Linked DNA regions of Homo sapiens. Each later gene encodes a partner of the first gene's protein in a complex. Each region holds a gene or a part of one and is shown in the gene's direction. Other genes may lie near its edges. The genes, in order: AGK, TIMM22 and TIMM29.

Region 1 (11,973 bases):
CCTACCAACTGAGCTTATAGTTAAGCCTGCTAAAGTTGGGAGGGAAGCAAGTCACCAGAGGCCCTAAGCAAAAGATTTTTTCTCATCAGGGACAATTCACCACAATTTTCAAGGGGAAATAAAGTTGCTGCTGTGCAATGAGGGCAGGAAGATGAATGCATGAAACCCAGAAGAACACACTGGACACCTCTTTATATTGCCATATCCAGTGGGAGTGTTAATGAAAGACGACTACATTTCCAACCAGGCAGGACCCAGAACTCAATCCTCCAGGAATGAAGATCAGATCGCCCTTACCCTCTGCAAAAACAAACCAAAACAAAAAGCCTAGCTTGAGACCAGGTGCAGTGGCTCACACCTGTAATCCCAGCACTTTGGGAGGCCAAGACGGGGGAATCACTTGAGGGAGGCCGAGGAGGCAGATCACTTGAGGCCAGGAGTTCGAGACTGGTCTGGCCAACATGGTGAAACCCTGTCTCTACTAAACAAACAAACAAGCAAACAAACCAAAAAGCCTAGCCAGCTGAGGGCTGGCCTGAGGTAAGGAGGTATGAAATGAATTACAGAGGGGCAAGTCAGAATCACAGCCACAGCCCAGCAGCAAGTGGCAGAACCAAGAACGGCAACCTCCACTCGTGTTTCCCTTTTGTAAGGTCACATGCATTTATATGTTTCCATTTAATTTCCTTTGCTTCCCTGTAAAATTTGCCTTTAATGTTCTGCAGTTTCAGTCTGATGTATCTGCTGGGTTTGTTTGTTTGTTTTGAGACAGAGTCTTGCTCTGTCACCCAGGCTGGAGTGCAGAGGCCTGATCTCAGCTTACTGCAACCTCTGCCTCCCAGGTTCAAGGGATTCTCCTGCCTCAGCCTCCTGAGTATTTGGGATCACAGGCACCTGCCACCACGCCCAGCTAATTTTTGTATTTTTTTAATAGTGATGGGGTTTCACCATGTTTGGCCAGGCTGGTCTCGAACTCCTGATCTTGAGTGATCTGCCTGCCTCAGCTTTCCAAAGTGCTGGGATTACAGGCATGAGCCACTGCACCCGGCCTGCTGTTATATTTTGAATACTGCCTCTTCCCATCTCTCTACTCTCTCATTCTGGAGCTCCTATTAGACATCTATTGGATTTCATTCTGTCTTCCAGAACCTTAACTCTTATTTATATTTTGCCTCTCTTTTTTCTCTTCTTGCTGTATTTGGTTAATATCCTCACATCTGTCTTCTAGTTCAATAATTTTCTCATCAGCTGTATTTAATCTCCTCTTTAACTTATCACTGAATTTTTAATTTTAGTAACTATGCATTTTAAAAATTTCTGGGTGTTATACTGAGTTCTTTTAAAAATTTGCTATTTTGTTTTTCTTTGTGCCTTGTATTCTTCTTAAGATTAAAATTTTTTTCTTTAGTAATGATTTTGATCATTTTGAACTATTTTATTTTAAACTATAATTCAATTATTTTAAGTTTGTGGGGCTCTAATTCTCCTATGGGTTTTTTTTCCCTCACTTACTCAAAGTAAATCATTTTTTCATGTATTTTGTGATTTTTTAAAATTGTGACATCTTTAGAAAGGTTTTTTAAAAAATAGGAAAATCCTTTTTGGCCTGGTATGGGAGCATTCCCCCAGAGGCCTTTGTGTTTGCTTCTGTCAGACACTCAAAGCTATTATCACTATGAGACTAATTTTTATATTAACTTTCCCAGTTTTGAGACTTCTGTACCACTGAGATAACGTGTATTCAAATCAGAAAACCCACCCTAGGCACAGATTTGGTGTTATCACTTATTTGGGGACTCTTTTTCCACCTAGAGCTCAGGCTGGGACACACCACTTCCTTGTCATCTTCCTATATTGGTGAGTAGATTTTTAAAAATTTTTTTCCCTAGTGATTGTAGTCAGAGGTTTTACTTCCAGCTCCCTGACTTTGGAGGACCCAAGTTCTCATGTCTTGTGCTGAGACATAGCTTCTAGATTGTTGAGCCGGAACCCTCAAGCCAGGCAATGACATCATCGGCTCATATATTTCTATTTTAGCTTTCAGGTCCCGCTTATTTTCTGGCCCCATGGGATGAAGCTTCCTTTACGGCAAGTTCAGTTATGCACTATGAATCCTCTTGTTATGTTTTAACCCGAATTTCTAGGTATTGGAATAGGTAGACTTTTCAGGTCTACTACCTTGCCAGAACCAAAATTCCAAAAAAGTCTTATAATGATGGTGTGTACCTGTTGTTCTCCAATGCCCTATACTTAGAGCAATTCGTAGTTTAAAAAATAAGAAAATTCAGAGTTTTTATTATATGGTAACTTATTAGGATGACACTACCATAATTACTATTTTGTTTGAAATTTGGTTTCCTAAAAAAAAAAAAAAAAAAAAAAAAAAAAATTAAAAAAAAAACTGCTGGTCTCTATGCTCCTGGAAATGAAAAAATGAATTACCAAAGTAAAAAACTTAACATTCATTCCAGGTAGAATTTCCCTTTTCTTCTTCCAGGGTACTTAGAATTTGGGTTACTCCTGAAAACCAAAATTTGCAAAACAATGTTGGAGACCTGGCTCAATACAATCAATGTGGGCCCTACCTTTGTTCCTACTCACTGCCATATTAAACAGGCAGCTGGGAAGTGCCGACCAGGGCCTAGCTGGAGTCAGGAGGAATAAGTGGCAAAGGATGACAAGAAGACACATTAACAAGAGAAGTCACATTCAGGAAAATGCAGGGCCCATATAGATCATGGGTGACAATGGGCAGCATAGAGGGTTCTTATAAAACCTCATGCAATAATGTGAAAACATATTCTCTCTCCTAGGAACCTGTTGGTTTCTTGAAAGGCCTCATTTACATGTTTCCAATCTGGTAGCAATAGATTCAGTGGATATTAAAGGTCATAATAAGGAAAGGATTTTAAGCATAAATACCACAAGAACACCATTTCATATTTTTTTCCTTAGGGGAAACAAAGTAGTCTAAAGAAGTATCTACATGCAAAAAATGAGCAAATAAACCAAGATAAGTCTTAAAAGAATTTGTACATAATTTTCCATGATCAAAGTACTCACCCTGGGAAGCATCTGTTCCCACAAGCAGGTTTCATTGGCGATGCTACATAGTAAGGTTACTAATGGTCATAAGGACACTATATCTTTTTTTGAACTTTTAACTCTATTTTAGTGTTAATGAATCTACAGAAAAAGAGCATAGCACTGGTCCAAGGTCCAGGGAAATGACTGGAGGATGATTTTAGGAAAAACCAAAGGTTAAGCATCCCATTGATGTCAACTTGCTTTCTTCTGTCATCGATTTTCACCCTTAAAACCTTGCCATAGGCCAGTGTTGTGGCTCACACCTGTAATCCCAGCACTTTGGGAGGCTGGGGCAGATGAATCACAAGGTCGGGAGTTCGAGAGCAGCCTGGCCAATATGGTGAAACCAGTCTCTACTAAAATACAAAAATTAGCTGGACTTGGTGGCCCATGCCTGTAGTCCCAGCTGCTCAGGAGGCTGAGGCAGGAGAATCACTTGAACCCGGGAGGTGGAGGTTGCAGTGAGCAGAGATCATGCCACTGCACTCCAGGCTGGGCGACAGAGCAAGACTCCATAAACAACAACAACAACAACAAAAATCACACAAAAAAACCTTGCCATCATTTTTTTTTTTCTTTTAAATCACTGTCCTCGTTGTGTTTCCTATCCACCAATATAGCCTATGGCTTGCAGTTTATCAAGTTGGGGCTCATGGCTCCAGGGAACAGAAAACCCTGACTCCCCCCTAAACAATAAGGGAATTTATTATTTCACATAATAGGATGTCCCAGAGTTTGGGCAAACTCCAGACATAGTACAACCATTTGGTTCCGTGATGTCATTGAGGACCTGGGCTCTTTATCTTTTTCCTCTGACATTCTCTGTGAGTTGGCTTTGCCCTAGGGCTGGCTCCCTTCATGGATGAAGAATGACTATAGCAGTTTCAGGCATTACATACACATATATGATCCTATAGGAGAAAAGTGCGACCATCTCTTTCTCTTTTTTAAAAAACAGCTTTATGGAGATATAATTCACATACCATACAATTTTCCTACTTAAACTTTATGTTTCACTGAGTTTTAGTAGATTCATAGTTGTCCTACAACCACCACCATCAATTTTAGAACATTTTCATCTCCCTAAAAATAAATCCCATACCCATTAGCAATCATTTCCCACTTCTCCCCAACCTCCCCCCAACTGCAGTCCTAGGCAACCTCTAATCCATGTTCCATTTTCATGCATCTGCCACTTCTGGTGGTTTCATGTAAGTGGAGTCATACACTATGTGGTCTTTTGTGACTGGCCTATTTCGCCTAGCCTAATTTTTTTTTTTTTTTTTTTTTTTTTTTGAGATGGAATCTCACTCTGTCACCCAGGCTGGAGTGCAGTGGCGTGACCTTGGCTTACTGCAGCCTCCGCCTCCCAGGTTCTGGTGATTCTCCTGCCTCAGCCTCCAGGTGGCTGGGATTACAGGCATGCACCCCTGTGCCCAGCTAATTTTTGTATTTTCAGTAGAAATGGGGTTTCACCATGTTGGCTAGGCTGGCCTTAAACTCCTGACCTCAGGTGATACTCCTGCCTTGGCCTCCCAAAGTGCTGGGATTACAGGTGTGAGCCACTGCACCCGGCCCACCTAGCCTAATGTTTTTAATGTTGATTGCCATTTCTTTCTTGAATTCTCCCTTTTAAGAAGGAAACCTTTCCTAGAGATCTCTCAGCAGACTTCCTTTTAAGACTGTTCTAAATCGAGTGACATGATCTATTCCTAATCTAATCATTGGAGATGGAAGAGGAATGACTGTGATTACCTAAAGTGACTGTAAACTAACCCTTGGCAAAGGGGATGGGGTTATCTAGTCACCTGCTTTGTAGTTACAGGCAAACAGGGGCTGGGAAGGTGAAGAGTGGATGTCTGAACAAAATTTAATTCCTGTTAGGAAAGAAGAAAGGGGCAATGGATGTTAGGTAAGGAGATAAAATGTACAATACACTTTAATGATACAACATAACAGTTACGAAAGAAGCTAAGAATGGTGAAGGGGGCTCCACTTACCTTTGGTTTATTTATTCCACCAGTCTTCCTTCCTTCCTTTTTGTTTTACACCTGTAAGCTTCAGACTCTAGAGTGGTGGGTTCACCAACCACTCCAAATCCTACCCCTGCAATGGATTTTATTATACCACCAGGTTGAGTGAAGCTGACCAACTTCAGGGGCTTCAGGGAGGTGGTAAAGGCAGGGAGGGGATAACTGAGAGGTGAGAGTCACACAGTGCCCACTTTCTAGGTAATCAATTGACAGCAATTCAGCATGCCATCATTGCTGTTCTAGCTGTATGTAGTTGATGTACACAACTGAGAGGGAGGTTGCAAGTATGAGAATTTTTTATACACATATAAAAAATTATATATCTCTATATATCTTGTCAATGAGCAAAAAATTGAAATGTGAGACTACCTTAAACCTTGATTCTTTCTCTCGTCTTATGTTCTTGAACACTCTTCCACAGTAGGGGGCAATCTGACTGGAGAGTGAAATACTCTTTCTTGTTGAATGACCATGGCACTCCTGTCTTAGTTTCTTCTCACCCTATTTCTAGGCCAAGGTCATTTCCCTGTAACATCCTTAATAACGGATTCTGAGCCCAGACCAGGCACGGTGGCTCATGCCTGTAATCCCAGCACTTTGGGAGGCTGAGACAGGCGGATCACCTGAGGTCAGGAATTCAACACCAGCCTGGCCAACATGGTGAAACCCCATCTCTACTAAAAATACAAAAATTAGCCAGGCGTGGTGGTAGGCTCCTGTAATCCCAGCTACTTGGGAGGCTGAGGCAGGAGAATTGGTTGAACCCAGGAGGTGGAGGTTGCAGTGAGCTGAGATCACGCCATTGCATTCAGGCCTGGGTGACAAGAGCGAAACTCTGTCTCAAAAAACAGACAAACAAAACCAAACAGATTCTGAGCCAAGAGAATGTTACCTCAGGATTGGTTCTGGACTAATGAGAAGCTACTGGGATGGTCAGCCACCATATTTGGAAAATGCTAGAGATCTTGAGTTGTAAGACTCTTCCATTCCTGGGAGCTACTAGATGTCAGTCAGTACATTCGTCCTCAAGGGAACATAAATTCATTTTGTAAGCAACTGGGGCCCATACTTTCAATGTGTCACTTATTTCAATATGCATAAAGTATAGTATTATATGTGGCAATGTGTTAGTTGTGAAAAGAGACACAAGTCCCTATCCTTGACAGTGCAAAATGTTCTTCTCTGACGATCCCAGGCAAGAGCTGAAGACCCAGGCAAATTCCAAATAGCTCCTTGGGAACCTCGCTCAGCTGTTAGTGATAGTGAACAAAGAACATGGAAAAGGAAGTACATAAGCCAAGCCCTTCTCTCTGGCTGTGTGCATTTGGATCTGTCTTTGGTCCTCTCTGTGGCATGAATGTGCCATTGAGCCTCAGGGACTGTGCCCGAGGCACTGTTCCAGGCCTCTAAGGGCCAGAGTGTCAGACCTGAGTCTTCTCTGGCATCGTAGATCCTTAACACGGATCAGCAAAGGAAGCTCTCCAGGACTCTCTTTGACTATGAGAGGGAACTTGTGTTAATCCTTGACTAAGAGTTTTGTTTTGTTTTGTTTTGTTTTTTGAGAGGTAGTTTTGCTCTTCTTGCCCAGGCTAGAGCGCAATGGCGCGATATCGGCTCACTGTAACCTCCGCCTCCCAGGTTCAAGCAATTCTCTTGTCTCAGCCTCCCATGTAGCTGGGATTACAGACACCTGCCACCACGCTTGGCTAATTTTTGTACTTTTAGTAGAGACAGTTTCACCATATTGGCCAGGCTGGTCTCAAACTCCTGACCTTAGGCAATCCACCCATCTTGGCCTCCCAAAGTGCTGGGATTACAGGCTTGAGCCACTGCGCCCAGCCTAACAGAAGTTCTTGGGGCTGCCTAAGTCAGAGTGTCAGGTTTCTGTTGGGCTGCAGGAACCCATTCAGGGCTGGCTAGAGCTTGTGCCTGATTATTCTGGAATCTGAATGCATCCTAGTAAAATGGTATTTGGAAGAGAGTAGAATTGGTATAGGTCTCCAAAACTCCAACCTACACATCTGCCTGCAGGTGTGTATTCAGATTCCCTTAATCTCCTATATTTCCATCCTTCTTCATCCTTCATCAAAGCTGACCTTTTCTTATTTGGGGAACCACTTTCATGCTGAAGCCCTAAAGCATACGCTGAGTCTGACCCTTGGAACATCAAAATCAAGTCTCAGATTTTTCTAGCCTGCAGGTGAGCAGTTCAGAAGCTTATTTCCAAACACAAACGCTTTAGATAGTTGGAAAAGAGGAACTGAAAATAATGGTCTTCCATACCCTATGACAACATTTTAGAGCTAGAAGGGTTTTTTTTTAATAGTAATGTTCTCAGTCCCCTAGTTTACAGATGGAGACTCAGGAGAGAGGGCTAGAAATTTCTTGCTACTAAACAGTGTGGCCCAATGGATTGGTGCACCCTGGCATAAGGAATATGTTTACTGCACCATAGCCTCATTGAAGGTCCCCGCCCCGGCCTTTTTTTTTTGAAGCATTCACCTAGGGAGACATAGGTAGGATGCATGTCTACACGTAGGAAATGTGCAGACTAGATAGCAAGCTCCATGGGGCAGGAACCATGAAGGGCCTTGTACCTGAGCATACCCCCAGTGCCTGATGCAGGGCCTAGTGCACACTCAAATGTTGGTTGACTGGCCGGGTGCGATGGCTCATGCCTATAATCGTAGCACTTTGGGAGGCCAAGGCGGGCAGATCGCTTGAGGTCAGGAGTTCGAGACCAGCCTGGCCAACGTGACAAAACCCCCGTCTTTACTAAAAATACAAAAAAATTTAGCTGGGCCTGGTGGCACACACCTGTAATCCCAGTTACTCGGGAGGCTGAGGCACAAGAATTGCTTGAACCCGGGAAGCAGAGGCTGCAGTGAGCTGAGATTGCACCACTGCACTAGCGCCTGAGCCACAGAGTGAGACCCTGTCTAAAAAAAAAAAAAAGTTGGCAGACTGAATGCTGGAAAGAAGAAGGACCTGGCTTTGTCCCCACACCAATCTGGTGGGCGAGTACAGAATGTAAACTGTCTGGAGGTTGGCATTGGCCTAGCTTCTCCGTTGCTCTCTTGTTCTCTAGAATCCAATCAAGCACCTGTGGCCAGAGAGCTGTGTGAAATGGAAACCAGTCCCACCAGCCCCTGATTGCACCCCCGCAATGTCTTCTCGCCCTGTTTAATGTCATGTCCAAACTCCTGGCCGCCGTGGCCTGTCTCCACCTCTCCAGCTTCCTCGCTTGGCCTGTCTCCTTAGCTCTCTCTGTCTCACCCACACTGGCCTGCAACTCGCCAGAGTGCCCCAGGCTTTTCAGCTTTTGCACGGGCCCTTCCCTCTCCAGGCTCTCTCCCCTGGATCTTTGCTTCAGCTGCTCCTTCTTGACATCCAGGTCTCAGACCAATGGCCCCTTACTCAGAAGGCCTAGCGCAGGCCGCCTAATTTCACACAGTTCTCCCCCTTCCCGCACTGCCTTCCATCACCTCGTTTCATTTTCTTCGTGGCACGGAGCACCATCTCCAATGGCCTTGTTCATTTAGTTAATTTATTTTCCGACTTAGTTCCAGGTGCTAAAACAGTGTTACCTTGGCAGGCTTCCCATCAAATATTGTTGCGCAAAGGATGGATGGATGAAAGGAAGAGTGAGCCAATAAACGAGGGAACGCCGGGAAAGGCAGCCTCAAGCCGGTGGGCCCTGCCACCCCCACCGTCCCTGAGCATCCGAGCCGGTTCCCGCCCCCGGCCCGAACTGGCCCGCGCGCGCTCGCAGCCCCGCGGCGGAACCCGAGGGCGGCGGCAGCGGTTTCCCTTGAACGAGCCGGGGAATCTGGAGGGAGCACACAGGAAAGGCAGAGCCGCGAGCTGGACCAGCCGTGGTGAGTGCAGCGGCGCCCAGGCGGGGAGCGCAGTGCGGGTCGCTGGGACTGAGCGCGCGAGCGGGGTGGGAGTCGGGATGGGGGCCCGGGGCGCTGGGCGGAGCCTCTGGAGTCGCGCTGGGCCGAGAGCCGCGGGGACCCAAGCATCAGGGGTCGTGGGTGCAGGCGGCGGCGCGGCTTGAGGGTAGGGGGTGCGGGCCTGGCCGGCGCGGCAGGGGAGGGCCTCGCGCGGATCCCGTGGTCACGGCGGGAGTCAGCTGTCCTGGGTTCGAGTCCCAGAGCTGTCGCTAACTTGTGGACCCCCCTCACTTCGTCCCTTGGGCTTCAGCATAGCCCTTTGCAAAATGGGGCCAATAGTATCAGATCCATTGATGGGTTGGTTGGTTCATTCATTCTGGCGCTTTACTAGGTTCTGGTGCTGCAGATGGATAGACGAACTTGCCCATGAGGGGTTCACTATCTAGTAAGAAAAACATTTCCACCTGGATACTCCACAGGCGTGTCAAATTCAGTATCTCCTAAACCGCACTACTTTTCTCCACAAACCTACCACTCAAATCTAAATGACTGAAATCACTATTCAACCAGTCACCCAAGCACAAAAACCTGGCTTGGTTCCTCCTCTCTCACTTACTACAGTCAATGGACCACCAACTGCTGCCAATTTCTACTTTCTAAAGCTTTCCAAATCCATCCTTTATCTTGGTTTGTTCTTTTAGGAGCCTACAGATTATGGCAATAACTTCCTAATGGTTCTCTTTAGCTTTAATTTTAGCTTCTTCCAGTTCATTTTTCATTCTGCTATAAAGTGGTCTTTTAACAGTTCAAATATGATTATATCACTCACCTGCTTAAAGCCCATTAAAGGTTTTTCATTGTCTTCAAAATAATAGCCAAAGTCCTTAGTGTGGGTTCAAGGTCTTTTCTAATCCCACCTGGTCTTCAATCCTTTATCTCTAAACCACTGTTTCTCAAAGTCTGGTATAGTGGTGACCTCCATTGCAACCAACATGGGAGTACTTGTTAACAAGTGAAGATGACAGCTTAATTCCAGAACAAATGAGACTCTTGCGGGAAGGGGCAGTTCCCAGGATTCTGTGTTTTTAACAAGTTCTGCACTAAAGGTTGAGAACCCCTGTTCTAGACACTCCAATTTTTACTCCGCTGTTGATGAGATTCAGGACACACTGCCGCAAAATATGACTCGTTGGCATTAGAGGAAACAACTGAAGCAGGAAAGTCACTTTGTGTCTTCCCACTTTTCTCCCCTGAAGCAGGCCATAAAAGAATTGTTTGACCTTCTTCTGTATAAGACCCTTCAGTGAGAGGTGCTCATCCTGTAAGTATAGGATCGAGGAAAGGAATGCCCTTATCTTTGAAGACACAGGTACACAGAGAAGAATCAGAACAAATAGGCCTTGCTAAATTCTCCCCAGCGTATTACTGTTAGATCATACCCCCTTTTTCCAGTCTCAGCCATGAACCTAATTCTCCCCTCAACTATCTACGTATGTTTCTCTCAACACACTTTACTGTCTTTTATGCCTTTGTACACTCTCAGTTTGGGCTACTGTAAAAAAAAAATAGCAAAAACTGGGTGGCTTAAACAACAGAAATTTAATTCTCACAGTTCCGGAGGCTGGAAGTCCAAAGTTAAGGTGCCAGCATGGTTGAGTGCATGGTGATAGCTCTCTTCCTCGGTTTGTAGAGATCTGTCTTCTTGCTGTATCCTCACAATGCAGAGAGACCATCTCTGTAGTGTCTAGTCTCATAAGGACACTAATCCCTTTCATGGGAGCCACTCTTATGACCCAATTATCTCCCGAAGGCTCTATCTCCTAATACCATCTCAATGGGGATAGGGCTTCCACATCACCATTTTTGGGGAACACAGCATTCAGACAATAGCATCCACAAAACTCCTTCGTTACTTTAGTGATTTCCTCCTCATTATTCAAGGCTCAGGGAAGACTTCATTGACTGTGCACCACCCCCTCAGCCCTAGACCAGGTTAGGTTCATTCTTGCAGACTCTCACAAAGCCTTGTGCTGACTCCTCGACATTTATCCCACTGTACTGCAATCATAATTGTATAATTGTGTTAGCATTGTGGGTTTGACAGTTGTGAGCACTTGAGAGAACGCATGAGACCCATTCTTCTCTGCCCTCACCCCCAGCACAGAGCCTACCATATAGGTGTTTATTAAAGGGCTCTTGAATGAAGGAGTGATTTAGGGCCAGATGGAGAGGAGTTCAAGAATTAGTTGGGCCTTTGGAATCATGTGTCAGCCTGACGGTGTATGGGATTCACAGGAAGATGGTCTCCCTGGCACTGGCTTCACTGCTGCTTTTGATAAGGATGTTTCTACCCTTGAGAGGAATTTTAACCAATGGGATTTAAAGGGAGTCATAAAAGAACTGGACTTTTAAGTGGAAACAGTTTTTTTTTTCTTGGTCTATATACCTCACTAACAGATAGTCATAAAAAAATTTTGCTTAAATTTTTGTTTATCTAGAAAATAAGTTCATTTTCAAAAACTTAGAAAGTACATTGCAATTTTAAAAATAAACATCACCCACCATTCCACAACCTAGAGGGATCTACTTTAAAATTTCGTTTTTGAGCCAGGTGCAGTGGCTCACGTCTGTAATCCCAGCAATTTGGATGGCCAAGGCGGGAGGATTGCTTGAGGCCAGGAGTTTGAGACCAGCCTGGGCAACATAGTGAGACCTTGTCTCTAACAAAAAAAGGAAAGAAAAAAATTAGCCAAGTGTAGTGGTATGTGCCTGTGGTCCCAGCTACTTGGGAGGCTGAGGCAGGAGATTTGTTTGGGCCCAGAAGTTATAGTGAGCTATGATTGTGCCACTGGACTCCATCCTAGGTGACAGAGTGAGACCCTGTCTAAAAAAAAAAAAAAAAAAATTGTTTTTGTTTAATTGTATTGGTTTTCTTTTTAAATTTATACTCATGTTTG
Region 2 (8,846 bases), on another chromosome or scaffold:
AGCGTTGCGGCCGCGGCTTCCTCCTGCGGCGAATCTGCCGTTGCATCACAGTGGCTAGTCTCAGGGCCCGCAACGTGACGCTTGTCGAATCTGCTGCGGGGAGAAGGACGCGAGGGTTGCTTGGGCAGCGACTGTCATGGCGGCGGCCGCCCCCAATGCCGGAGGCTCGGCCCCTGAGACAGCGGGTTCCGCCGAAGCTCCGCTGCAGTACAGCCTGCTCCTGCAGTACCTGGTGGGTGACAAGCGTCAGCCCCGGCTCCTGGAGCCTGGGAGCCTGGGCGGGATCCCAAGTCCAGCCAAGAGTGAGGAGCAGAAGATGATCGAGAAGGCGATGGAAAGCTGCGCTTTCAAGGCTGCGCTGGCCTGCGTGGGAGGTGAGGCCGGGCGATGGGACCCTTGGGAGGCTGAGGGCCTGGACGGCAGTGGGGATCTCTGCCGAGAAGACCACGCGCCTGGGAGGCGAGGGACTGCGGGCCTTGACCTTGACCACACCCTCGCCTCGTTCGTGAATCGGGCGTCACCTCTCCTGCCCCCTCAGGCCGGCTTTCCTGATGAAAATTGGGTTAGAGAATCGGTGCTGTGGTTGGGGCCTGAAAGTTATTACATGACATCCTGGCTAACACGGTGAAACCCCGTCTCTACTAAAAATACAAAAAATTAGCTGGACGTGGTGGTGGGCGCCTGTAGTCCCAGCTATTCGGGAGGTTGAGGCAGGAGAATCGCTTGAACCCAGGAGGCGGAGCTTGCAGTGAGCCGAGATGTGCCACTGCTCTCCAGCCTGGGCGACAGAGCGAGACTCCGTCTCAAAAACAACAACAAAAAGTTATTACGTGGGTGACTTCATTCATCCGTTCATTCCCTTAAATTCATTCTCTTAAATAATTCTTTCAACAAATTGTTCCTAAGCAATATCACGTGCCAGGTGAAAGAGACAAGAGCCTGGTCTTCATGGGGCCTGTATTATACTATGTGGAGAAGAATGTTGAGCAGGAACACTGCAGAGGAAGGATGCAGACATATGGAAATGCACATGCAGACGACTCTAGGGCAGCAGTTGTTTGAGGTTTGAAAAACTGAAAGACCATTGTGACTAGACAGCCCCGAGCAAGGAGAGACGAAGTCTGCACTTGTCCTTCTGTTTTTCCCTTAAGTTGAAGGGGAGGTGCCCATGATTTTATTAAACTCATATTGACCATGAGGTCATGAGAGGGCATCCATCTGGACATGTCCAGCCGGCTCAGGAAGGACAGATGTGGCAGCAGTGTGGGATTTGCCATTAGGTAGCTGTGTGGCCTTGGGAGAAGTTGCTTAACCTCTCTGAGCCTCAGTTTATAGAAAGGAGAGGCTAATAGCATCTGTCTCACTGGATTATTGTGAAGAATGAATGAGGCTGTGGCATACTGGCATGTGCTCAGTAAAGCATTACTGTGAATGTCACAGTGGCCAAGAGAGTGATTTGCAAAGTTGATAGCTGAAGTTGAGGGTGGCTGGTTTACATATGAGAGAATGTAGAGAGAATAGAGGGTTAAAGATGGAATCTTGAGAAATGTTAGGGAATGACAGGAGGAAGAAATCTTAGAGACGGAGAAGATGATGTCAGTAACATAGACCCTGGATTGCAAGTCTCCAGGCAAGTGGAGAGTTTGAGTGGCAAGAGGGGGGTGTCCTCTGCACCGGTGGTCATCCAAAAGCATGGTCCCTTCCAGGATGATCCCAATAGAGTAATGCAGAAAACATGCCAAAGACACCTTCATCTCTGTGTTTGCTTCTAGGATTTGTCTTAGGAGGTGCATTTGGGGTGTTTACCGCTGGCATCGATACCAACGTGGGCTTTGACCCTAAGGATCCTTACCGTACACCGACTGCAAAAGAAGTGCTGAAAGACATGGGGCAGAGAGGAATGTCCTATGCCAAAAATTTCGCCATTGTGGGAGCCATGTTTTCTTGTACTGAGTGTTTGATAGAATCTGTAAGTGTCTCTGCCTTCTAAGAAATCCTTGCTGGGGCCACCATTTCATTACTTTTAAAGAGAAATTGCTCTTTAAAAGTCATTTGAAAGTTGTTACTAGAAAGCAAATCAGAAGCATCAGATACATTCTAGGTTGAACTTCCATAAAATAGTCCCTGTGGCAGACTTTGTGTGTGTTTACAGTATGGGCTTGCATTATTTTTTACTTTTTGTAGGCTAGAAGTTAGCTAATGATTTTAAACGAGACTTATTGGAGAGCCCCTTGAAGAAATTTTGATTACATTCCAAATGCTGGGCTTGGTTTCAGCACTCTGGTGCCACCTGCAGGAAGCATCTATGAACGCATACTATATATATATATATATATATATATATATATATATACACGCTGTATACTTAGGAACTATATTTTCAAGAAAGATTAGGTTTCCTTTGGGTAGGGACTGAATGAGCTAACGAGCAACCCTGTGTATTCCTCCTTAATGGTCTGCCTTGGCTTGTTTCTTTGGCTCTAACGTGTACTTCCCTGCCCACAGTACCGGGGAACATCAGACTGGAAGAACAGTGTCATCAGTGGCTGCATCACGGGAGGAGCTATTGGTTTCAGAGGTTAGTAAACGGCTCTCGAATGCTTTTTCTTTGTGGCCTTGGACAACGTGCTGAGGTTGTCATTTCCAAACACACGAGTGTTCCAGGGACACTTGATCTTCTTCCCTCTGACAAATAAATCATGTTTGTTTCTGTGGTAACTCGGTTTTGGAAACTTGTAGGATCTAGATGAGGGTTTCCCATCGTTGGCACTACTGACATTTCGACCAGACGAATCTTTGTCGGGATTGGGTCTGTTTTGTGCATTCTAAGACGTTGAGCAGTATCCCTGGCCTCTACCCACGAGATGCAAGTAGCACCCCCGTCCGTTGTAACAACTTTTTTTTTTTTAAAGAGACCGAATCTCACTCTGTCGCCCAGGCTGGAGTGCAGTGGCACGATGTCAGCTCACTGCAACCTCCACCTCCTGGGTTCAAGCGATTCCCCTGCCTCAGCTTCCCAGGTAGCTGGGATTACAGGCACCCGCCACCATGCTCAGCTAATTTTTATTTTTTTAGTAGAGATCAATTTCACCTGGTCTCGAACTCCTGACCTCGTGATCTGCCTGCCTCAGCCTCCCAAAGTGCTGGGATTACAGGCATGAGCCACCACGTGTGGCCAACATTTTTCTCAGTAATTCTAGACAATTGTCTTTTAATTTTAGATATAAATTATAATGGTAATATCTTTCTGCCCTTGGGGATTCTGATTTCTACCCATTGAATGCTAAGTACAGATATTCTAGAAATATTAGATTATCAGCTGCAAAAAAAAAAAAAAAAAGAAAACCAATTTGCTGCCTCTTCTCCCCGTTGGCATGTCCATTCAGAGCGTGGTGGAGGGCCTTGGTGACTTGACTTTCCTAGAAGCAGCAGTGTTTTATCACTGGGCCACTTTCCATCTGTCATGCCCTAACTTACCCAGAGCAAAAAGCCAGTTTTCTCATCTTCTGAGAGACAGGATGATTTGCTGTCATGAAACCTGGTTTTGCTCCTCAAGCACCATTTATGATGACGGACTGACTTCTCCGCCGGTCGTCCCATTGTTCAGCTTCACCAGGGCCTCTTTGAGAAGCTCTGCTGTCTCCAGTACTGCTTTGATCACCTTCCCAGGAATGTATTCCATAAACAAATCAGGGTCAAGGCCATATGCTTTCATTTGATTCCGAGGGCTGCTTCTCTCAACCAGTTTCCTGCCTGCGAGGGGCTATTTCCCTAAGACTAGAAATACCCTTTGAAGGAGAAAAGCTAAACAAATGTAGTTAGATAAAGCGCACTGGATTAGATCATATACACTGCTTCATTGATGTCTTCCAGAGCTATGATCGTTTGAATGACTTACAGTGCTTAAGCTCATTTCATGACACTGAGGGTGTGCCAACTTTCCGTGAGTGCCTCGTGACCCAGCAGCTGTCACCACAGGTCATGTTCTTTCTGTTTGTTTGACAGCTGGCTTAAAGGCTGGGGCCATTGGTTGTGGAGGTTTTGCTGCTTTCTCTGCTGCGATTGATTATTACCTCCGGTGAGAGTAATTGCCTGCAGGGAAGGATGATGCCAGCCCCGGATCCGGGCTGCTCTCTGGAGGACAGTTTCTGTACCACACCAGGGCCTTGCTTCAGGGCCTGAAGACATTCATTTTCCCTCATGTCGTTGGTATTCTGAGGGAGCTGCCTGGCTTCTCTGCCTCCAGCCTTTGGGGTAGCCACACTTTGCTGCTCCTGGACTCCAGCCAGCCTTCACAGAGGACGTCCCGTGCCAGATTCTCTCACAGCAGATCGGGAGACAGGATGTTGACATATAGGAATTCAGCTCCACAAAGCTTCAGGCCTGACCACAGCTGGCCCTCTAGGTTGTTTGGTGTTGTGGGCACAGAGGTGACAGTGTCTCTGCAGGCACTCAGGAAGCTGTTCTACCTTGGAACTCCATGCAACTATCCGTCTCGAATACCAGGGCAGGGCAAGGCGGACTGATGCCGTCCAACCAATTATCTCACTTGTTTTGTGTTCTGTCATCCTTGTTTTTTTTTTAAAAATACACTCCCCTCCCCCACCGCCACACACCTTACAGTTCAAAAGGTTGGTTTATTTGTATTTTATTTTCAAATTCCCTATTCCAAAAATAGTGCCGGGTGGCCCAAAGATAACATCTGAAGGGAAAGAATGAGAAAGCTCCCAGGGAAGCGGGGGATGGGGCGCTGAGGCAGGGTTGTTAGAGGACTGTGTCATCCTCACCAAGCTCATTACATCTGCCAGGGCCTGCCTCAAGAAGCCCAGCCCAGCCTTTTCCTGGGATGCAGTGAAATCCCATCCATGAACTCGATGGGCCCCTCCTGTGCCGGCCGAGAGGCACACACTGCCTTCACGACGTGACTGCTGGACCTGGCCGAGCTTGAGGCCACATGTGAAGGGTCCTGCTGTGGTCATCTTGGTGACTCGGTCACAGCAGCTACTGGCCAAGATCAGACGTCGCTGAGGGGCTGTTCACCACCATCCTCGTTCTCCAGGGTCAAGGAAGTGTTTTAACATGTCGTGTTTTCGACTTGACCTTGTGGTATTTTTCTTGGCCTAGTTGTGTGCCATGGATATTAAAAAAAAAAAAAAAAAAATCCGTCTACAGTTGGGCTTCAGCACTGGTGCTGCTTTACCCTGGTGCTCTGTGGGGGGATGACACTGCTGGAGTCAGGCCTTTGCTCTTGGGTGGGGCACAGGCAGGTCGCTTGGTGGGGGCCACACAGTGCTGGGCACCTTCAGCCAGTGGTGATGAGTCTCCTTTTTCCTATAATACGGTAATTCCTCTATCCTTTCCTTTTTTGCCTTCTTCCTCATCTGCCCTGTCTTCTGGCCCACACACTCTTAACCAGCGTTCACACTCAGTGTACATGGCCTGGAGGCCCGAGTGTTTGTACATGAGTGATGATGTCAAACCCAGCTGGTAACACCTTCCTTGGGTCATGTTTGCCATTTTCTTGGAATGAATGTGAGTTCCTGCTCAGGGCTCATGTCCTTTTACAGTGAATTCTATATAACGCCCCTCCCAGTCTCACAGCTAGGAGGCTTCATCACTGCTAGGCCAGTTGGAGCGTTCCCTAGAGCTCAGAACAAATTGTTTCCTCTGCTGTCCCTAAATATAGGACACCTACAAGCACTCTGAAGCAAGGGCAGACATTCCCACCTGGTACCTGTCAAAGTCCTAGGATGCCTGGGATCTTCCATCTTTCAGTCTAGCACGTGGGACCAAATACAAGAGATGCTGCCCTCACAACAGCCTTGGAAAAGATGAGCGCCAGGGCTGTCAGTACCCATCGGTTCAGTAAGCGAGGCATTGTCCACGCTGCCTATTCACTCGAGAGATGAATAGTTTCCTGTTTTCGATGGCTGGGGAGCCAGTATGAGCTCATAAACCAAACAGCAATTTTCAGAGACATCTGTTCCTGATCTTCAGAATAAACTCAGTGTCCAGTTGCTTCGGCTGGTGGGAGCCAATATTCACGCCACTGACTCTCTCAAAGGGAGGGTGGGCCCTCGGAGACCCAGCTTCTCTGACAAGCAGATTAGACCAAAAGGCTGCCTCAAAGATATGCCACTTTGAAGGAAAGCGTAGAGAAGCGTTTACATAAAAGAAGACGCTTCCTGTTCAGTGGACAACTTCATGCCACTTTCAAGGCACACCGATGGCCAGGTGGGACATTTGTACTGTAGCAGCACATGGCAAAGGTGAGCCAGAAGCAGCCTGGATGCTGGCTGATCCGGAGGCCTTTGTGAAGAGCAAGGAGAGGGCTCCAGCCCACCTCCCCGCAGCTCTGCCCCAGCCCCCGTGGGCCACAGGGAGGCTCAAGGGGAGTGAACTAGGTAAACAGATTCCTGGAAACTCACATCTGGATGCAGCTGGAAGAGTTAAATATTTACATTGGTGGCTTCCCTGGACCACCGCGAACACAAACATCCACACCACAGGGCTGAGTTTTGTGCAAATGATGGGGCTTTGCATTTTTTATTAACATTTTCCTCTCACGTGGTTTACATCAATTTATAATAATCTACATAAGTTGAAACAGAACATAGACAAAAAAATATATCCTTACCAACTTATTAAAGTCAGATATTCATGAAGGGTCCCATCCTACCTGTGTATCAGCAGAAACTGGCAGCCATCAGCCATTGCCCAGCAAGAACAGGCAGACCTGGCGTTTCTTAGCCTGACTCCTGCTGGGCACAGCCCACCCTGCTGGGCACAGTGACTGGAGGTTCCAGGCTGCACAGTCCCTGGCTCCTGACTCCTGCCGGGCGCAGTGACTGGAGGTTTCGGGCTGCATGGTCCCCGGCTCACAGGAGACCCTGCTGGGTGTTTCCTTGGTGCAGTTTAGTCCAGGTCTGGCACCTGACCCTCCCCACTCTGGGGGTGGGATTTATAAATATGAGCCTTTGCATTTCTCAGCCTTTGCAGCCTTCCCATAGCCTGTTCTCACGTTGCCTCAGCGAGCTTGGGGCTGTGGGGCTCCCTGAGGCTGAGACGCGAAGGTGCCCAGTCTGGGCCGTGACTCACTCTGCCCCTTCCTGTCCATCACTTTGGAAGCAAGCAGGAGCCTTCTGTGCCACACACCGACACTCGGATGCCAGGCAGGGACCTTAGGAAGGGCCAGGCACTGCATCTTTAGACTCAAGTTCACCGCCTTTCCCAGGGAGCAAGGGCTCCTTGCTAAGCTGCTCACAGGCAGCCGATGGTCAGTACTTCCTTCCTCTTGGGCATGTCTTTCCTCCGTGCACAGAGTATTTACTGTTCTGCCCAAGGCCACAGGAGTAAACAGGCTCAAAAAGGGCCTCTCACCGCGCACGCGCTGCAGCGTTAGGGCCGGCAAACCCTTCTTTAAGACTCAGCCCTGAGCACAAGCAATGGGAACTGAGCTCCCCAGCCCTGAGGGCCCGGAAACGACGCTCTGCCACACAGAAGAGCCGGGGAGCTGTAACTGGCTATAAGTCGAGCCCCTGGAGCTGCATCTGCTCTCCTAGGCTGATGGCCCGAGGCTGGCAGCCGCAGCTCGTGTGGGAAGTGTACGGTGGGAACACACCTCACTCCTTCCTAGTACCGGGCAATGCGTCTGCAAGTCGGGTCCCTGCTCCCTGGCGGGTGCCTACAGCACCAACAAGGAGGCCCCAGCAGAACCCAGCCCCTAGAGGCGGCTGTCTGATTCCCCACTCTCCCCACAACTTCTGGAGTTCCCAGTGTTTACCCAAAAGGCTGTATCCAGAAGCTGGGGCGGCACCACAATGGCTGGCCACCGTGGGCCTGTGCCTTTGCTTCCCAGGTCCTGGAGGACCGTGGCAGTGCTTGGCTGTGGAGTGTGTGTAAAATCTAAGGCAAGAGTACCACGAGGTCCTGCGGTGCCAGGGAGCTCCTGGCTGCAGCCTACCTGCCTGGACACCTGCTTCGGCCACATCAGTCACCCTCCAGGAAGCCTGGCCCCTCTTGAAAAGCCCCCACAACTTGCTCCTAAGAGCTGAGCTGCCTCCCCGCGACCCGGGACACCCAGCGTGGCATGTGCATTCCTCCCCCGTTCAGCCTGTGGTGTTTCCTCAGCAGCCTGACCGCCTCCTCCCCCATTCTCTCCTGACCCTCTGGCTATCTCGATAGCAGGTCACCTGTGAGTCTTTACACTCAAAGGAAATAGAACAGCAGGGAAGGGAACTGAAAAGCAGTAGAAGAAACAGTCAGAGATGCCTCACTGATAGACAGGAGGCCGAACAGGTAAACCCCAGAAGTGGAGATTCCCAAACGGAAAATTCCAGAAATGGGCGCTCCAGCTCTGTGCTAAGCTGGGGACGAGTGTGAGTGTGTCTGCTTGTCCAACATTTGCACAGGCAGCAAGGCAAAGCAGGTGTGCTCCCAAAGGCGGAGTCTGAGGAGGGGCCGGCAGCGGCAAACGGCAGCATCAAACAGACCACTGCTGCCGCGGCAACCCAGGGCCTCTTCAGAGCTTTCAAGGCGATGGAGCGAAGACCAAGGGTGCACATGCATGCAGGCAGGCTGGGAAGGAAGAGCGGGTGGAGGAAGACTGAGGGGAGGCTGCCAGGAGACCGCCATCTGGGAGCAGGGCCAAGAGAGAAGCTGGCAGCAGTTACACAGCGCAAAATAAAAGGCCTTGGGCTGGACTCAGGCGGAAAGAAAGTGCTGGAGGAAATGAAAGAACAAAGCGGGCTGTCTGTGTGCCCACGCCGGGCCGGTCACTACCTTTTCTGCCTGACAAGTGTACATAAAACAATTCCCGAACAGCACGGAGCATCAGACACAACTAG
Region 3 (7,167 bases), on another chromosome or scaffold:
GAGGGTGAATACCAGCCCGGCGGCTGACAGGCCCAGGGCCAGCGCCCCAAAGAGCCACTGCAGCCAAGGCACAGGGATGAGCCACAGGACCTGGGAGCAACACGGCGGCAGGTGACCATGCCAGTCCCCCCAGCCACCACCCACTCTGCACCAGGCCACCCTCACCACCATGGGAATGAGGCGGCAGGTGACCATGCCAGTGTCCCCACACAGCCACCACCCACTCCGCGCCAGGCCACACTCACCACCATGGGGATGAAGACAAAGAGGGAGTAGCCGTAGATGCACACAGTCTCCAGGAAGGTGTAGGGCCCCATGCGCTCCTGGACACCCTTGCGCCACCGCAGGAAGCCCCACAGGGCCAGGGGCACCAGCCACGCATAGCAGTAGATGCTGATGCCTGCCACGGTCACTGGGGGGGGCAAGGTGAGCAGTCACCCCCTGTACCCCAGGGCCCTGCCAGGCATTGGGCCTGCCCGTCTGCTTACCCTTGTGGAACTGGGGGCTGTAGTGGATGGAGGGGTCCCTCCTCTGGGCCAGCACCAGCGTCAGGTTGCCAGTGACGGCCAGGACAAAGGCCAACGTGGCACAGATCCAGAAGGGGCCTGGGGGTAGGGGGCACAGTCAGGGTCCCGGGCCCTGCACTCCCAGGACAAGCAGACATGTATCCTGACTGAGCTGTGCTGAGACCCCAGCCTCTTCCTAAGCACCTTGCCTGACTCACCAGGACACCGGGGGCCTCCTGGTGGCTGAGCCCAGTGCTGGCTGTCAGTTCATCCCCCTCCCCGAAACACTCAGGACTGCACACCCTTGGCCTGTGTCTCACCTCATTGGTGCCAATTCCTCAACCCCTGTCACCTCCTCTTTGACTCTCTGACCCCTTCAGCCATGGGGAGCAGCCAGGCCCAGTTCTTGGCCCCTTCCATGTCTGCGTTCACCCATAGTATGACCTCCTTCAAGCCCAGGGCCTTATGCCTCCTCTAGAGCCCAGGGCTCTGCCCTGAGCACTGCAGGCTCCAGTTCAAGCTCCCGGGTGGGCATCTCCGGCTTCATCCACACCCTTGCCCTCTGCCCTCACTGCCAAGCTGGTCCCGTGGATACGTGGCAACTCTATCCATCCCGTTAGTCCAGGCAGAAATCCCTAGAGCCTGCCTCCGCTCCTAACCTCCCACTCCCCCCACCCCCACCTATCTAGCCACAAAGCCAGTCTCTTCTACTTCCCCAGCACGTTCCAGAATCCAGTGCCACTCTCCACATCCACAGTCCCCACCATGTGGCCGCCTCCACCCCAGCCTCCTGGCTTCCGCCCTCGCCACTCATGATGGCGAGAGGGACCCCGAAAACACTTAAAGATCCATTCTCGGCCAGATAACAGTGACTCACACCTGTAATTCCAGCACTTAGGAGGCCGAGGCGGGTGGATCACCTGAGGTCAGGAGTTTGAGACCAGCCTGGCTAACACGGTGAAACTCCGTCCCTAATAAAAATATAAAAATCAGCCGGGCATGGTGGCACGTGCCTGTAATCCCAGCCACTCAGGAGGCTGAAGCAGGAGAATCGCTTGAATGCGGGAGGGGAAGATTGCAGTGAGCTGAGATCACATCACTGCACTCCAGCCTGGGTGACAGAGTGAGACTCTGTCTCAAAAAAAAAAAAAAAAGATCTCTTCTTGCCACAGCATGGGAGGCTTGTGTGATCTGTCCCCTCGCCTGTGACCTCCCTGCAGCTCACTCGCTCCAGTGGTAATGCCGCCCTGCAGTTCATGCAAGTTCCTGCCATGAAGCTTACGTCGTTTCTGGAAGCCTCTTTTCCTAGGTCTCCCCCACCCCTCCTGTTGCCAACAAGGCTCATTCCCTCACCCTCCTCAGGGAGGCCTGCCCTGCTGCACCCTGCAGAACTGCAGGGCCACTCCTCCTGTCTGCTCTGCTGCTCTCTACCCGCCACCCTCTGCAGTCCTTCATGTCTCTGTCTCCCTGAACAGCAGGTAAGTCACACTGTCTGAGTGACTGATTTGTCCGCAGCTATACACTGGCATCTGCAACTCAGGCCACACTTGTTGAGTGATCCATCAAGGAACCAAATGCACAACCTCACTCACCATACAGATCCGGCCGATTCCGCAGATGGTGCCGCACAAAGTTGTGGCCAGGCCGGGGCAGCAGTGAGCCTTTGATCCGGTCCAGGACCTGGGGGCAAGGCCAAGGTCAAGGATGGAAGTCTGCCAGGAGCTTCTCCCTTGTCCTGAGAGGCTCCTTCCCTGCTGACCTCCACCCTTCTCTTTCCATGCCCCACCTGAAAGAACTCAGCCTTTCCCTCTCTTTTTTTTTTTTTTTTTTTTTGAGACAGAGTCTTGCTCTGTCGGCCAGGCTGGATGGAGTAGTGGCATGATCTCGGCTCACTGCAACCTCTGCCTCCCGAGCTCAAGCAATTCTCCTACCTCAGCCACCCGAGTAGCTGGGATTACAGGCGTGTGCCACCACGCCTGGCTAATAGTTGTATTTTTAATAGAGACGGGATTTCACCATGTTGGCCAGGCTGGTCTCGAACTCCTGACCTCAGGTAATCCACCCACCTCGGCCTCCCAAAGTACTGGGATTACAGGCGTGAGCCACCGTTCCCAGCCCCCTCTTTTTTTTCCCTCTTTTTTTTTTTGTTTTGAGACGGAGTCTCGCTCTGTCACCCAGGCTGGAGTGCAGTGGTGCCATCTCGGCTCACTGCAAGCTCCGCCTCCTGGGTTCACACCATTCTCCTGCCTCAGCCTCCCAAAGAGCAGGGACTACAGGCGCCCACCACCACCCCCGGCTAATTTTTTGTATTTTTAGTAGAGATGGGGTTTCACCGTGTTAGCCAGGATGGTCTCGATCTCCTGACCTCATGATCCTCCCACCTTGGCCTCCCAAAGTGCTGGGATTACAGGCGTGAGCCACCGCACCCGGCCTCAGCACCCCCTTTTTCTTTTTGAGACAGAGTCTCACTCTGTTCAGGCTGGAGTGCAGTGGCACGATCTTGGCTCACTACCACCTCCGCCTCCCAGGTTCAAGTGATTCTCGAGCCTCAGACTCCTGAGTAGCTGGGACTACAGGTGTGTGCCACCATGCCTGGCTAATTTTTGTATTTTTAGTAGAGATGGGGTTTCACCGCGTTGGCCAGGCTGGTCTCCAACTCCTGACCTCAAGTGATCCACCGCCTCGGCATCCCAAAGTGCTAGGATTACAGGCGCCGACCACTGCACTTGGCTAATTTTTCTATTTTATTTTATTTTTTATTTAATTTTATTTTATTTATCTTATTTTATTTTTGAGACAGAGTCTCATTCTTTTTGCCCAGGCTGGAGTGCACTGGCACGATCTTGGCTCACTGCAACCTCCGCCTGGCGGATTCAAGCGATTCTCCTGCCTCAGCCTCCAGAGTAGCTGGGATTACAGGCGCCCACCACAAAGCCCGGCTAATTTTGTTGTATTTTTAGTAGAGACGGGGTTTCACCATGTTTGGCCAGGCTGGTCTCAAACTCCTGACCTCAGGTGATCCACCCACCCAGGCCTCTCAAAGTGCTGGGATTACAGGCATGAGCCACCCCGCACCCGGCAGTTTTTGTATTTTTGGTAGAGACGGGGTTTCCCCATGTTAGCCAGGCTGGTCTTGAACTCCTCAGGTTATCTGCCCACCTCGGCCCCCTTAAGTGCTGGGATTACAGGCAGGAGCCACTGCGCCCAGTCCATCTTTGGTCTTCTGCATATGCTGTTCCCTGTGCCTGGAACATATACTCCTGCTTCCCTACCCTATTCCCCAGGGAAGCCTTCTGTCTCCTTTAGGTCTCAGCCAATTCCTCACCTCCCCCAGGAGGCCTTTCTCTAACCCACCAGATTGTGTGTGTCCCCTGTGTTCCCATAGTCCCGATCCATAACCAGTCCCACCATAACCCTTTGAGAGCACCACAGTTCGTTCACCAGCACCCACCATCACCAGCACCCTGCCCAGGGGAAGAGTGGCTGAACCCTGAGCATAACTCTGAGCCCCATCCCACCTGCCTCCCCAGCCTGACCTGTGAGGTGTCCACGTCAAAGAAGCTCTGATAGTAGCTGAAGGTCCAGAATCCCGGCTGCTGCTGCTGCTGCTGCTCCTGCAGGAGCTGCACATTGCGGGCATTCAGTGCCTGCCCGGAGAGCCTGGGTCAGCTGGGGGCTGCAAGGAGGCAGGACACAGGGACTCACCGCGGCCTTGTCACTCTCCTCCTCCACCTCATCCTCGGCTCCATAGCTGCCACCTGAGCCCACGGCCACAGCCACGTGCCCTTGTGGGGTCAGCTGATCGCTTCTGCTGGTGGTGGCTGCATCTGGGGTGTCAGCCAGAAGATTAGTGGCCTCCTCGAATTCTGTGGAGGAGGTATATGGGACACACGCACGTTTGAGGGGTGGAAAGAACTCGACTGGGCCCAAGCTAAACCGATGCTCATCTGGGGGCGGAGGCTCTGCTGAGCCATTGATCTCCCCCAAGGTGGGGCCCAACTTCCTCAGTTTGGAGGCATCCGGAGGACATCTGTTCCCTTCCTCCTAAAGTGGAACTGCAACTTAGGGTTGACGCTGGGATGGGGTCAGGGTCTGGGGACGAGAGGCTCGGGTTTGAGGTCTGAGTTCAGGGCGGGGGCGGGGTTCGAGTCAGAGATGGGTCTCACTCCTGGGTCAGGGTTCACAGCCGCCTAGGCTTCGGGGTAGAGAAATTGGAAGCCGTATCGGGGGGAGGTTCTGGCCCGGGGCGGGAGTGGGAGATCCGGCCACGTCGGGGCCGCACTCACCATGGAAGGTCAGCTCGTCGGCCGATGCCATGGTCGTTCAGGGGCGTCTCCGCATCCCTCGCTGAGGACAGAGACCGGTCAGGCACACTTCCCCCCCGCCCCCGAGCCGGTCCCTCGGCCCCCAGCCCTACCTGGCGACCAACTGCACCCACGGAGGCTTGAACTCGTCGTCCCGTCCCCACAGGTGCGCTCCGCCCCCCCTCACCTGAGGCCACCTGGGCCGGCGTGGCTGGGGCTCTCTGCGCCTGCGCGTCTCGCCTACCCGTCAGACTCCAACCGACTCAGACCTGACAGCAACATCCGGCGCCTGTCCTCTTTCTATCCTCTCCCGTTGGGAAGCCACTTCCGGTAAAGTTGGCGCTTGCGCAGAAGAGACTCCCGGGCTCTTAACGTCGGGTATCAGGAGTTTCTTCCCGGAGCAAGGACCCCCAAGACGGAAGAGGATGGCCGCGGCGGCTCTGAGGAGATTTTGGTCCCGGCGCCGCGCAGAGGCGGGCGACGCGGTAGTGGCGAAGCCGGGAGTGTGGGCGCGGCTGGGTGAGTAGCGGCGGAAGGCGGCAGGGTGGGTGGCCGCCGCGACAGGGTGGGTGGCCGCCGCGGCCGGATCACTCTTACCGCGCTCCTCTCCCCTCAGGGTCCTGGGCCCGCGCGCTGCTCCGGGACTACGCCGAGGCCTGCAGGGACGCTTCGGCGGAGGCTAGGGCCCGGCCGGGGCGCGCCGCTGTGTATGTGGGTCTGCTGGGCGGCGCGGCGGCCTGCTTCACGCTGGCGCCCAGCGAGGGTGCCTTCGAGGAGGCGCTGCTGGAGGCGTCGGGGACCCTCCTGCTGCTGGCGCCGGCCACCCGCAACCGCGAGTCCGAAGCCTTCGTGCAGAGGCTGCTCTGGCTGCGGGGCCGTGGCCGCCTGCGCTACGTCAACCTGGGGCTCTGCTCGCTGGTGTACGAGGCGCCCTTCGACGCCCAGGCCAGCCTCTACCAGGCGCGTTGCCGCTACCTGCAGCCCCGCTGGACCGACTTCCCCGGCCGGGTCCTGGACGTGGGCTTCGTGGGTCGCTGGTGGGTGCTGGGGGCCTGGATGCGCGACTGCGACATCAACGACGACGAATTCCTGCACCTGCCGGCGCATTTGCGGGTGGTCGGGCCCCAGCAGCTGCATTCCGAGACCAACGAGCGGCTCTTCGATGAGAAGTACAAGCCTGTCGTGCTCACCGACGATCAGGTGGACCAGGCGCTGTGGGAGGAGCAGGTCTTGCAGAAGGAGAAGAAGGACAGGCTCGCCCTGAGCCAGGCCCACTCGCTGGTGCAGGCGGAGGCCCCGAGATGAAACCCTGAGGCCCCCGAGTCCTGGCAAACTGCTTGCCTGGGGTGGTGCAGTTCTGAGTGTGCCTCACCTGCAGAACAGCTGAGACAGATGATGTGCAAAGTGTTTTCTCACTGGATTTGCACAAGTTTGGGGAGCCTTTCTGCCCCCCGTCTTTGTTCTTTATTAGCTGAAGCTAATTCAGAGCCACCTGGGTCCGGGAGTTGGGGACAGCAGAACGACTTGACACATGTTCATCACTGGCAGAGCTGGTCATGAGCCTTTTATATAAGCCTTTTTCATCGGGCCTCAGAGGCCCTCCTTAAGGAGGTACCACATTGGTCAGCTGACTTGCAAACTCTTCTAAGGCCACTTAGATTTTCTTTTTCAAGTTTGGGTTGTGGCCTGGCATGGTGATGTCTGTAATCCCAGCAGTTTGCAAACTGAGGCAAGAGAATCGCTTGAGGCCAGGAGTTTGAGGCCAGCTAGAGTGACATAGCAAGACTCCGATGCTACAAAAAAGAATAATAATAGTAATTAACTAAATAAAATTTGAGCTGAAATGTTTTTATTCTATGACCTATTCTCTCTCGTTTTTTTTTTTTTTTTTTTTGAGACAGGGTCTTGCTCTGTTTTGCCTGCTGGAGTGCAGTGGTGCAATCTCGGCTCACTGCAACCTCTGCCTCCCAGGTTCAAGTGATTCTCCTGCCTCAGCCTCCTCAGTAGCTGGGATTACAGGCCTGTGCCAACATGCCTGGCAAATTGTTGTATTTTTAATAGAGATGGGGTTTCACCATATTGGCCAGGCTGGTCTTGAACTCCTGACCTCAGGTGATCCACCTGCCTCGCATTTCCAAAGTGCTGGGATTATAGGAGTGAACCACCACACCTGGCCTTTCATTTTGATAAGTAACATTTTTGCCATTCCCAGCTCTTTGGAAGGCTGAGGTAGGAGGATTGCTTGAGATCAGGAGTTCAAGACCAGTTTAGGTAAAATAGTGAGAGCTTTCTCAAAAACTAAAATATTTGGAAGGGTAAAGCAGGCAAATCATTTGAGCTTAGGAGTTCAACACCAG

What was found.
Region 2: AGK (region 1) and TIMM22 share a complex: the UniProt entries of both Homo sapiens proteins name them as parts of the TIM22 complex.
Region 3: the proteins of AGK (region 1) and TIMM29 are in contact, whole or in part, in a cryo-EM structure (PDB 7CGP), measured with the Homo sapiens proteins. Residues at the interface, in NP_060708.1 of Homo sapiens: His33, Asn36, Arg39, Arg40, Cys43, Gln44, Gln47, Asn51, Lys82, Pro86, His89, Leu90; in NP_612367.1 of Homo sapiens: Tyr145 (codon at 5,765), Gln146 (codon at 5,768), Cys149 (codon at 5,777), Arg150 (codon at 5,780), Tyr151 (codon at 5,783), Leu152 (codon at 5,786), Gln153 (codon at 5,789), Arg155 (codon at 5,795).

The regions. Positions count from the first base shown.
Region 1 is NC_000007.14:141,542,437-141,554,409, forward strand, and holds the start of AGK (acylglycerol kinase, mitochondrial isoform 1 precursor), read left to right. Parts: upstream 1-8,973; 5' UTR 8,974-8,998; exon of another isoform or gene 8,999-9,182; intron 9,183-9,247; exon of another isoform or gene 9,248-11,973. UniProt on the Homo sapiens protein: Lipid kinase that can phosphorylate both monoacylglycerol and diacylglycerol to form lysophosphatidic acid (LPA) and phosphatidic acid (PA), respectively. Does not phosphorylate sphingosine. Phosphorylates ceramide.
Region 2 is NC_000017.11:997,007-1,005,852, forward strand, and holds TIMM22 (mitochondrial import inner membrane translocase subunit Tim22), read left to right. Parts: upstream 1-122; 5' UTR 123-136; coding exon 137-374; intron 375-1,772; coding exon 1,773-1,969; intron 1,970-2,505; coding exon 2,506-2,578; intron 2,579-4,005; coding exon 4,006-4,082; 3' UTR 4,083-6,665; downstream 6,666-8,846. UniProt on the Homo sapiens protein: Essential core component of the TIM22 complex, a complex that mediates the import and insertion of multi-pass transmembrane proteins into the mitochondrial inner membrane. In the TIM22 complex, it constitutes the voltage-activated and signal-gated channel.
Region 3 is NC_000019.10:10,923,588-10,930,754, forward strand, and holds TIMM29 (mitochondrial import inner membrane translocase subunit Tim29), read left to right. Parts: upstream 1-5,223; 5' UTR 5,224-5,235; coding exon 5,236-5,329; intron 5,330-5,426; coding exon 5,427-6,115; 3' UTR 6,116-6,667; downstream 6,668-7,167. Other genes in the region: protein YIPF2, read right to left, coding at 1-90, 246-412, 489-605, 2,099-2,186, 4,043-4,129, 4,212-4,372, 4,793-4,823. UniProt on the Homo sapiens protein: Component of the TIM22 complex, a complex that mediates the import and insertion of multi-pass transmembrane proteins into the mitochondrial inner membrane.